Homo sapiens: one gene and its partners. The protein of the gene in region 2 interacts with the protein of the main gene of each other region in a pairwise test. Each region holds a gene or a part of one and is shown on either strand. Other genes may lie near its edges.

Evidence for each region. The genes of interacting proteins can lie anywhere in the genome.
Region 1: the proteins of RPUSD4 (region 2) and HSF1 interact in binary tests that used the Homo sapiens proteins (3 or more experiments, as listed by UniProt).
Region 3: the proteins of RPUSD4 (region 2) and HINFP interact in a two-hybrid assay, tested with the Homo sapiens proteins (one large-scale study listed by BioGRID).

Annotation. Positions count from the first base shown.
Region 1 is NC_000008.11:144,298,104-144,301,603, forward strand, and holds part of HSF1 (heat shock factor protein 1), read left to right. Parts: intron 1-3,500. UniProt on the Homo sapiens protein: Functions as a stress-inducible and DNA-binding transcription factor that plays a central role in the transcriptional activation of the heat shock response (HSR), leading to the expression of a large class of molecular chaperones, heat shock proteins (HSPs), that protect cells from cellular insult damage.
Region 2 is NC_000011.10:126,201,651-126,205,150, reverse strand, and holds the end of RPUSD4 (pseudouridylate synthase RPUSD4, mitochondrial), read left to right. Parts: intron 1-822; coding exon 823-920; intron 921-1,493; coding exon 1,494-1,733; 3' UTR 1,734-3,055; downstream 3,056-3,500. UniProt on the Homo sapiens protein: Catalyzes uridine to pseudouridine isomerization (pseudouridylation) of different mitochondrial RNA substrates. Acts on position 1397 in 16S mitochondrial ribosomal RNA (16S mt-rRNA).
Region 3 is NC_000011.10:119,128,080-119,131,579, forward strand, and holds part of HINFP (histone H4 transcription factor), read left to right. Parts: intron 1-271; exon of another isoform or gene 272-369; intron 370-2,576; coding exon of another isoform or gene 2,577-2,645; coding exon 2,646-2,875; intron 2,876-3,455; coding exon 3,456-3,500. UniProt on the Homo sapiens protein: Transcriptional repressor that binds to the consensus sequence 5'-CGGACGTT-3' and to the RB1 promoter. Transcriptional activator that promotes histone H4 gene transcription at the G1/S phase transition in conjunction with NPAT.

The DNA of each region.
Region 1 (3,500 bases), on a different chromosome or scaffold from region 2:
CTCCAAGAGGTGCCTGTGGTCAGCAGAGGAGGGACCTTGTTCCACTGAGGCAGGAAGATGAGAGAGACACTGGGTTCTCTGATGGGTTCACCAGCAGACCCTGTGAAATTCATAATGGCCCCTAAGGTAGGGGTTGCCTGACATGTTCAACTTGGATTTAACCCTTAAGGCATAAGAAGCCGCTGAAAATGTTCAGACGTTACAAAACTAGGGCCGGGCACGGTGGCTCACGGCTGTAATCCCAGCACTTCGGGAGGCTGAGGCGGTTGGATCACCTGAGGTCAGCAGTTCAAGACCAGCCTGACCAACATGGTGAAACCCCGTCTCTACTAAAAATACAAAAAAAAAAAAAATAGCCAGGCGTGGTGGTGCGTGCCTGTAATCCCAGCTACTCGGGAGGCTGAGGCAGGAGAATCACTTGAACCTGGGATACAGAGGTTGCAGTGAGCCGAGATTGCGCCGCTGCGCTCCAGCCACAGAGCGAGAAACTGTCTCAAAAAAAAAAAAAGAAAGAAAAGAAAAAACCGGCGAGGACTGAGGTAAACCACAAAATTGTCCAGGCTTTTTATGTGGAGGGAATTTGCAGACTCACGTGCAGAGAACCCAACAAACCCAGACTTTGGGGCAGCTGAGGCAGCTAGAATGTGTGGGGTGTGGTACCAGAAAGGAAGGAGTTACGCCCAAAACAAAGAGCTCCAGCAATCTGCGCGTGAGCCCGCTTGCATCTTGGGTTGGATCCGATTTGCTGGTGCACACAGTGAAACCTCGTGGAGCTGGACCAAGAGCAACTTGAAGGGGAAGAGTAAGTGTAAGGGGACAGATGAGCAGGACTCACACAGGGCCGTGGTTATTTCAGTTCCCACCAGCCAGAGTATAGAAGCCACTTTAAATACAAGGAGCTTTCATGACACCTTAGAGGAAACACAGCTTGGAAGTGGCGCAGAATAAGCTGCAGAGGAAAGGCCACTCCAATGCCGTGGAAACAAGTGCAAGGCAAGCCCTGGAAACACCACTGCCTGCTAGCACGGAGTACACACAGCACTCTTGAGAGAAGGAAGCCAGGCGAAGTGGCTCACACCTGTAATCCCAGCACTTTGGGAGGCCGAAGCAGGCGGATTATCTGAGGTCAGGAGTTCAAGACCAGCCTGGCCAATATGGTGAAACGCCGTCTCTACTACAAAAAATTAGCCATGTGTGGTGATGGGCGCCTGTGGTCCCAGCTACTTGGGAGGCTGAGGCAAGAGAACCACATGAGCCCGGGAGGCAGAGGTTGCAGTGAGCCGAGATCGCATCACTGCACTTCAGCCTGGGCAACAGAGCAAGACTCCTTCTAAAAAAAAAAAAAAAAATTCACGTCCAGAATCTAATCAGTCATGGGCAGACAAGCCAAAGCAGAAAAATGGACTTGTCACTGGAGGGGGTCCAGTAGCAGGCCCAGTTTTGATAGGATTAGCCAACAAAGACAGTAAACAATTATAAAAATGTTCCCTGTGCTCAAAGAAATAACACAAAAATGTGACTGAGGGCTGGGCGTGGTGGCTCACACCTGTAATCCCAGCACTCTGGGAGGCCGAGGCGGGTGGATCACGAGGTCAGGAGATCAAGACCATCCTGGCTAACATGGTGAAACCCCGTCTCTACTAAAAATACAAAAAATTAGCCGGGCGTGGTGGCGGGCACCTGTAGTCCCAGCTCCTCCAGAGGCTGAGGCAGGAGAATTGCTTGGACCCGGGAGGTGGAGCTTGCAGTGAGCCAAGATCGTGCCACTGCACTCCAGCCTGGGTGACAGAGCGAGACCCCGTCTCAAAAAATAAGAAAACATGACTGAGAAATGGAAGATACAGAAAAGAAGCAAGTTGGACAAAATGTCACTGGAACTAATCTCCCAAGTAGAAGAATTCCACATTGTTTACTGAGATAGTTCCCCTTCGAGGAGGTGATGCTTAACTCCTCACTCCAGAAGCCTGGGCTTTACCTAGTGACCCTCTTCCAAAGAGCAGAGCACAGAAGCAGGAGGAGCAGCTTTCCAGTGGAGACCTCCAGCAACACAGCCTCACCAGGGACCATGCTCACCATCAGCAGTGACATGCGTATCACTGTTGTGTACTCTTTTTTTTTTTTTTTTTTTTTTTGAGACGGAGTCTCGCTCTGTTGCCAGGCTGGAGTGCAGTGGCACAATCTCGGCTCACTGCAACCTCCACCTCCCAGGTCCAAGCAATTCTCCTGCCTCAGCCTCCCACGAAGCTGGGACTACAGGCACCCGCCACCTCGCCCGGCTAATTTTGTTGTATTTTTAGTAGAGATGGGGTTTCACCGTGTTAGCCAGGATGGTCTCAATCTCCTGACCTCGTGATCCGCCCACCTTGGCCTCCCAAAGTGTTGGGCGCGTCAGCCACCGCGCCCGGCCTGTTGTGTACTCTTGATAGGATGATGAGAACAGCACTCTACCTCTTTGATCTTCCTCCCAAAAACATACGTAACCCCAGCTAATGATGAAAAAACATCAAACAAATCCAAATTGAGAGACATTCCACAAACTGTTTGACGAGTCCTCAAAATTGTCAAGGTTCTCAAAAACTAGGCAAGTCTGAAAGGTGCCAGAGTCAGTGGGACTGAAGAAGATGTGACAACTGGATGGATTTTGGATGATGTCCTGGAGCAGAGGAAGGATTGGGTAAAAAGCTAAGGAATCTGATTAGAATGTGGGTCCTAGTTAACAATGTGTCTAATGTTCTTGAGACAACTGTACCACACAAAGGCAGGATGTTAATGATGGGGGACACTGGTGTAGGGCATGTATTCTAAAGTAAAAAGGTGGTTCTTCAGAGTCACCGGAGCGGTTTAACAAAACATTAGAAACTTCAGAAGAAAAGATTCCTGAACTAAAAGCAATGGAAACTGTCCACAGTGATGTACAGGGAGAAAAAGGACTGCAAAAACTTAGCCGAGCTTCAAGGACATAATATCATGTGGTCTAACGTATTTGAGGTTCCAGAAAACAGTGGGGAAGAGAATACAGAAATATGACCAAAAGGCTGGACACGGTGGCTCCTGCCCGAAATCCCAGCACTCTGGGAGGCTGACATGGGTGGATCGCTTGAGCCCAGGAGTTCAAGACCAGCCTGGGCAACATAGCAAGACCCTGTCTCTATAAATAATACAAAAATTAGCCGGGCGTGGTAGTGCCTGCCTGTGGTCCCAACTACTCGGGAGGCTGAGGCGGGAGGATCACCTGAGTGCAGGAGGTGGAGGCTGCAGTGAGCCATGATCGTACCACTGCACTCCAGCCTGGGCAACAGAGCCCTGTCTCAAAAAAAAAATTATGGCCAAAATTTTTCCCAAATTTTTGAAAAGCTGTAAGCTCACAAATCCAAGAATATCAGTCTTAAGCAGGATAAAACCAAAACCATATCAAGGTACATTATATAATCAAAGTGCTGGAACAGGCTGGTGAAGAGAAAATCTTAAAAGCTCCAGAAGAGGCCGGGCGCGGTGGCTCA
Region 2 (3,500 bases):
TTCACAGCAACAAAATGTGAAGATAATCCCAGTGACCATTGGGGGATGAATGGAGAAACAAAATGTAGCATACACATAAAATAGAATGTTATTTTCAGCTTTAAAAGAATTAAAGGAAGGGAAATTCTGACACATGCTACAATATGGATGCACCTTGAAAACATTATGCTAAGTAAAATAAGCCAGGCACAAAAGGGCAAATATTATATGATTCCACTCATGTGAGGTACCTAGAAGAGTCAGATGTATAGAGACAGAAAGTAGATGGTGGTTGCCAAAATCTTAGGGTAGGGTAAAGGAGGGGAGATAAATAGGGAATTGTTGTTTAATGGGTCCAGAGTTTCAGTTTGGGAAGCTGAGAAAGTTCTAGAGATGGATGGTGGTGGTGGTTGCAAAAACAGTGTGAATACACCTAATGTCACTGACTTGGCATTTAGTATAATGCCAGTGGTTAAACCAGGAAATTTTATGTATATGTTACTACAATTCAAATAATGTGCAAATCAATACTACTTATGTAGTAAAATTACTAAAAAGTTGGGGTAATGGTAGACGGCAAGTTCATGATAATGGTTATCTATGGTGGAAAGAGGGAATTGTGGTGGGGAGAGGTACTTAGAGTATTTACGGCGTTTACTTCCTAAACTGGCTGGTGCTACATAACTTATAGTTTGCTATATTATTCGTTATACTTTATTATAGTTGGGACTTGGCCAGTTTACTGCACTTTGATGTAACACGATTTGAAGCAGATGCCAATACTGGTATTGTTTCTGTAGCTCCTCACGAGTTTTCTCTCTTTCTCTCTCTCTCTCTTTTAAGGAATAAAACATCAGCTTCGAGTTCACTTGTCTTTTGGATTGGATTGTCCAATCCTTGGTGATCACAAGTACTCAGACTGGAATAGGTTGGCCCCCCAGGTAATACTAATTTGACCCAATGTGCAGCAGATACGGGAGAGAACTTAGGCGTTCCTTTTCTTAAAACTCTGAAATGAGTTACAACAAAGCCTACTGATTGTCTTCAGACATGATACCAAGCTCATTATCTTGATTTTAGAGAAATTTAGGAGCAGTTGGTTACTGTCCTTGTGGAACTGCAGGATCTGTTAGTGAAAAGCTTACTGTTACATTTGTTTATTCAGATTTTGTTGGGAGGCTGTGGACAAGGGGAGGGGTGTTTCTGAAGGCTGGGAGCAGCTTTTCATGGTGCTACTAAAAAACCGCAGGGAAAGCCTTTTCATCCTTATACCACAGCCCATTCTCTTGTTAGGCCAAAAAGCACTGGCCAAAAAGAATGTCTTGGTGTGGTCATTTTTCCCTTACCTGAGTTCTGAGCCGTTCTTAGACATGCCACTGAAGCAGACTCTCCATTACTGTGTCTTCCAGGGGGTTAGTTTTGGTTCCCTGTAAGTAGAAGTGCCCTGACCTTGCATGTTCGTCAAGGGTGGACTGTTGGCCTTGCTCTCAAGGGTCTGTCCTTTCTTTGTATAGAAGCTGTCTGTGGGCACCCTGAAGAAGCTGGGGCTAGAACAGTCGAAGGCCCGCTACATCCCCCTTCACCTGCACGCCCGGCAGCTGATCCTGCCTGCCCTGGGGTCCGGGAAGGAGGAACTCAACTTGGTCTGCAAACTTCCTCGCTTCTTTGTGCATTCCCTGCACCGCCTGCGTTTAGAGATGCCAAATGAGGATCAAAATGAGAACAATGAAGCCAAGTGTCTGGGAGCACAGTGAAGACCATGGGAGCACCCTGGCACCTGGGAGCACAGTGAAGACCCTGAGAGCATCCTGGCACCTGGGAGCGCAGGTTGGCCCCTGAACTGTTCTTTGTTTACAGGACTCTGCTAACTTCTCACTTGGAACAGACTGCGTAAGAGCCAGGTGGGATAAGGTAAAGCAACTCAGCTGCTACAGGGCTTTTAATGGAGAACAAAGTCTATTTACTGATAGTTTGGCTGCACTGTGGAAAAGCCTGCTGGAAGTCTCCCTGCCGTGGGCTCTCATTGCCAATATGGAACAGAGCCCAGGGCCAGGCAGACTGGGGCAGTGACTGGAAAAGGAAAACTAAAGGTCAGAATCCGGGATCAGGAACTGTTTTTATCCAGCAGTGAAGCTCTTGAGCTCTTAGGAAGGTTCCCGTGGTTGGAAAGAACATAATGGTTAACAAATATCACAGCATCCAGGGATTGCCCAGCTATAGTGTGGGTGCCCTACTGAACTCTGATTAGGGAACCTGTATAAGGGTATTGAGTGTGAGGTTGAGGTGGGACATTTGCTGAGCAAGGAGAACCGATGTGAATGGCAGGCAGATAACATGCACACATGAAGCTGGCTGGGTGTAAGGCAGTAGCGGGGAGCGGCATGCTGTCTAACAGCTGTTAGCTCCAGCTGGTTGTTGCCATGTGGGAATGGATTTTCTCATTTCTTCAGAGAAGCTGGAAACCTAGATATTTATGTGAAACCTCCCAGTGTATTGCCAACTAAATCAAATTTTTAAAGATGCTTAGGCACCTAAGCAAATAATACTTAGAGGTTGAATTTGGTCTACAGGCTAGCAGTTTGCAGTCTATGTTTAATGAATGGTATAGAAGTTTGGGGAAAGGTGCCATCTTGAAAATTCTGGATCAGTGGTTGGCATTTTCGCTGCGTGTAGTATGTATCCTTTCTAGGCTTGGAGATGGCTTTGGTTGGTCCGTGAATGTAGTTATGAGAGTGCTGCCATTAAAAAATCAAAAATCTCTGTTGTGGAAGCGTATCTTCTGTTCTTAGGTCTCAGGAAGGAGAGGGCTATACTGAACACCATTAGGGATAGATGGAAATGACCTTGGCCTCCCTGCTCAGCTGGTCCATCTAGTTTCCACCTTGTTTCTTGCAAACAAATACACCTCACACTACTTTTTCTTTCTGACAGAGTTGGAGTGACAGCACAGTTAGGGGGGTACACCCCGGGACAGTCTTTATATGTTCCCTCTGTATAGATGATGCCACTTTCTAGCCCTTTCCCTGTCTCCATGGTACCCATTACTGTGCATAATAAATTTAACTTTGAAAGCACAGACGAGATGACTATATTTGTTTATATAAGACCTAAATATTTTTGCTGTTATTTCTGTTTCTAGTAAACCATGCTAGTCAAGAAAAAGGAACAAGAATGTGACACTTAGGAAATAGTGATAATTGACATTAATTCAGGGAAACAGATGAACAGGAATACCCACAAGAATGGAGAAGAGGCTGGGCGCGGTGGCTCACACCTATAATCCCAGCACTCTGAGAGGCCGAAAAGGCCGAGGCGGGCGGATCACCTCAGCCCAGGAATTCGAGACCAGCCTGGGCAACGTGGTGAAACCCTGTTGCTACAAAAAATACAAAAATTAGCTGGGTGTGTTGGCACACGCACACCTGTGGTCCCAGCTACTCAGGAGGCTGAGCTAGGAGGATCACCTGAGCCCAGGAGGTTGAGACTGTAGTGAGCCATGATTGTGCCACTGCACTCCAGCC
Region 3 (3,500 bases), 7.1 Mb from region 2:
TTGATCTCATGATCCGCCCACCTCGGCCTCCCAAAGTGCTGGGATTACAGGCGTGAGCCACCGCACCTGGCCCCATCTCTCACTTTTTAACCTTTGTCTGACTTATGTTTTAGGTATGCCTTTTATCAATAGCAAATAACTGGGATTTTAATAAAATCCAATCTGAAAACAATAACAATAGTGAACTGTATTCTATAGTACCTACTGTGTGTTAAGTATTGCTGGGTACTTTATTTTTTTTTTGAGATGGAGTCTCATTCTTGTTGCCCAGGCTGTAGTGCAGTGGTGCAATCTCGGCTCACTGCAACCTCTGCCTCCTCGGTTCAAGCGATTCTTCTGCCTCAGCCTCCCGAGTAGCTGGGATTACAGGTGCGTGCCACTACGCCCGTCTAATTTTTTTTTGTATTTTTAGTAGAGACAGGCTTTCACCATGTTAGCCAGGATGCCCCTGTTGGCCAGCCTGGTCTTGAACTCCTGACCTCAGGTGATCCGCCCGCCTCAGCCTCCCAAAGTGCTGGGATTATAGACGTGAGCCACCATGCCCGGCCAGTACTTTTTTAAACCTACATTAAAGCACTATTTCCCAAAGAGCCTATGAGATAGGCACTATTATTATTATTATTTATTATTATTATTTTTAGATGGAGTCTTGCTCTGTCGCCAGGCTGGAGTGTGGTGGTGCGATCTCAGCTCACTGCAACCTCCACCTCCCAGGTTCAAGCAATTCTACTGCCTCAGCCTCCCGAGTAGCTGGGATTACAGGCACATGCCACTATGCCCAGCTAATTTTTTTTTGTATTTTTAGTAGAGACGGGGTTTCACTGTGTTAGCCAGGATGGGATAGGCACTATTATTATACCCATTTTACAAATAAGGAAACGGAGGCACAGAGGAATAAAATAACTTGCCCAAAGTCACGGTACTAATAAGTGTGGCAGGATTTAAAAGAAAAAGGAAAAAAAAAACTTTTTTTCAGAGTAAGATGGAGTCTTACTCTGTTGCTCAGGCTAGAGTGCAATGGCATGATCTCGGCTAATTGCAACCTCCGCCTCCCGGGTTCAAGTGATTCTCCTGCTTCAGCCTCCCAAGTAGCTGAGATTACAGGTGCCCGCCACCACGCCCGGGTAATTTTTGTATTTTTAGTAGAGACAGGATTTCACCATATTGGCCAGGCTGGTCCCAAACTCCTGACCTTGTGATCTGCCTGCCTCGGCCTCCCAAAGTGTTGGGATTACAGGCGTGAGCCACTGCGCCCGACCAAAGCCACTTTTTTTTTAGAGACAGAGTCTTGCTATGTTACCAGGTTGATCTTAAACTCTTGGCCTCAAGTGATCCTCCTGCCTCAGCATGCTGAGCAGCTGGGACTATAAGCATAAGCCACTGCATCTGGCAGGAATACATTTTTCTTTTCTTTTTTTTTTTTTTTGTGGGAGTGCAGTGGCTCGATCTCCGCTCACTGCAAGGTCCGCCTCCCGGGTTCATGCCACTCTCCTGCCTCAGCCTCCCAAATAGCTGGGACTACAGGCGCCCACCACCAAGCCCAGCTAATTTTTTTTTGTATTTTTTAGTAGAGACGGGGTTTGACTGTGTTAGCCAGGATGGTCTCGATCTCCTGACCTCGTGATCTGTCTGCCTCGGCCTCCCAAAGTGCTGGGATTACAGGCGTGAGCCACCGCACCCGGCCCAAAATGTGGTTGATAGTTCACTGAACTGATTTCCTAACCCACTAGTGGGTCACAACACAGTCTGAAAAACTCTATTCTACAGGAAATATGGAGGCAGCTCTCCTTCTCCCACCCCAAATTCTGTTTTAAGTCTGATGACTATGAACCATAATTGATAGTTTCAAAATTCAAGTCATATTTATACAAAGGCAAAATTGGGGAATGATTATATTTTCTAAAGTATCTGTGTTTCAAAACAAGTTAACTTATATAAAGCGCTGAAAATACAGTGCTTAGGGATGCTAGAGAGATAGGAAATGGATTGGAAGAGTTGATGGGGCCTTCTTGGAGAAGGCAGATCTTGAGCAAAACATGAGGGGAAGGAGGAGTGGTGGTTTTACAAGGAGAAGTGGGAGGTGTCAGATCGAGAGGCAGCATCTTCATCAGGAACTGCAGAAACTCAAGTCAGAGGACTTGCGTGCCGGCCATTTCTGCTGTCTGTTTCTGGCATAGGCCTTGCACACACTCTCACCTCTGCCTAGACCACACTTCTTCACCTATTTACAGATACTCATCCATCGTACTTCAGAGTTCAACATGGGGACGTTTCTCAGAACACCATGTCAAATGACCTCTGTTTAATGCTTTTATAGCACCATGTATATCCCCGCTTTGTAACACTCATCACTGGTTGCAGTTTTATATTTATAGATCTGATTATTTGATGAATATGCTTTCTCCCTGACTGAAAGCTATGTGAGGGCAAGGAGTGGGACACTTTTTACTTGTTATAGTCCCTCTAACTGGCACACAATTTATGGTCATTAAATACTGGTATTTGCTAAATGAACCCTGGTAATTTGGTTAGAGTCCAGCCTCCTCACGAGTCCAGCCTCCTCACTCTCTGTTTAGTGCTGCAGGTGGAAGGTGACCTGAGCCTTGGAAAGTGTCAGACTCTTCCTTTTAAACCCCTTTCTACAGAGGAAGAATTCTCCTGCTTGTGGCAGGAATGTGGCTTTTGTTCTCTGGACAGTTCTGCTGACCTCATCCGCCATGTCTACTTCCACTGCTACCACACCAAGCTGAAACAGTGGGGGCTGCAGGCCTTGCAAAGCCAGGCTGACCTTGGCCCCTGCATCCTGGACTTCCAGAGCCGGAACGTCATCCCTGATATCCCTGACCACTTCCTGTGTCTGTGGGAGCACTGTGAGGTCAGCAGGCAGTGCCAGTAATTGGGGTGGAAGGAAGCTGGGGGTCTTAACTCTGATGCCTTGTCCCTTTCAGGGATGCCTTATATTTCCAAGATTCCTGCTAGTATCTCTCTTCCATTTCTTTTGCTCTTTTAAAATTTGTTTATTTTTTACACACAGGCTCTTGATCTGAAGCCCAGGCTAGAGTGCAGTGGTACAATCATAGCTCACTGTAACCTTGAACTCCTGGGCTCAAGCAATCCTCCCACCTCAGCCTCCCAAGTAGCTAGGACTACAGGCATGTACCACCATGCCCTGCTAACTTCTAAATTTTTTGTAGAGACAAGGTCTGGGTGTGTTGCCCAGGCCGGTCTCGAACTCTTGGCCTCAAGTGATTCTCCTGCCTCAGCCTCTCAAAGTGCTGGGATTACAGGGTTTAGCAACCGCACCCGGCCACTCCTCCATTTCTGTGCAGTGCCTTTCCTCAAAATTTCCCATCCCCATCAAGTTAATTTGGGAGAGAGCCAAGAATTCTTCGGGCACATAGGGGTGAGTCCCTCTACCCACCCTCAGTCCTCACCCCAAGTTGCCCCTGGCACAGAATTCCTTCGACAATCCTGAGTGGTTTTATCGGCATGTGGAAGCA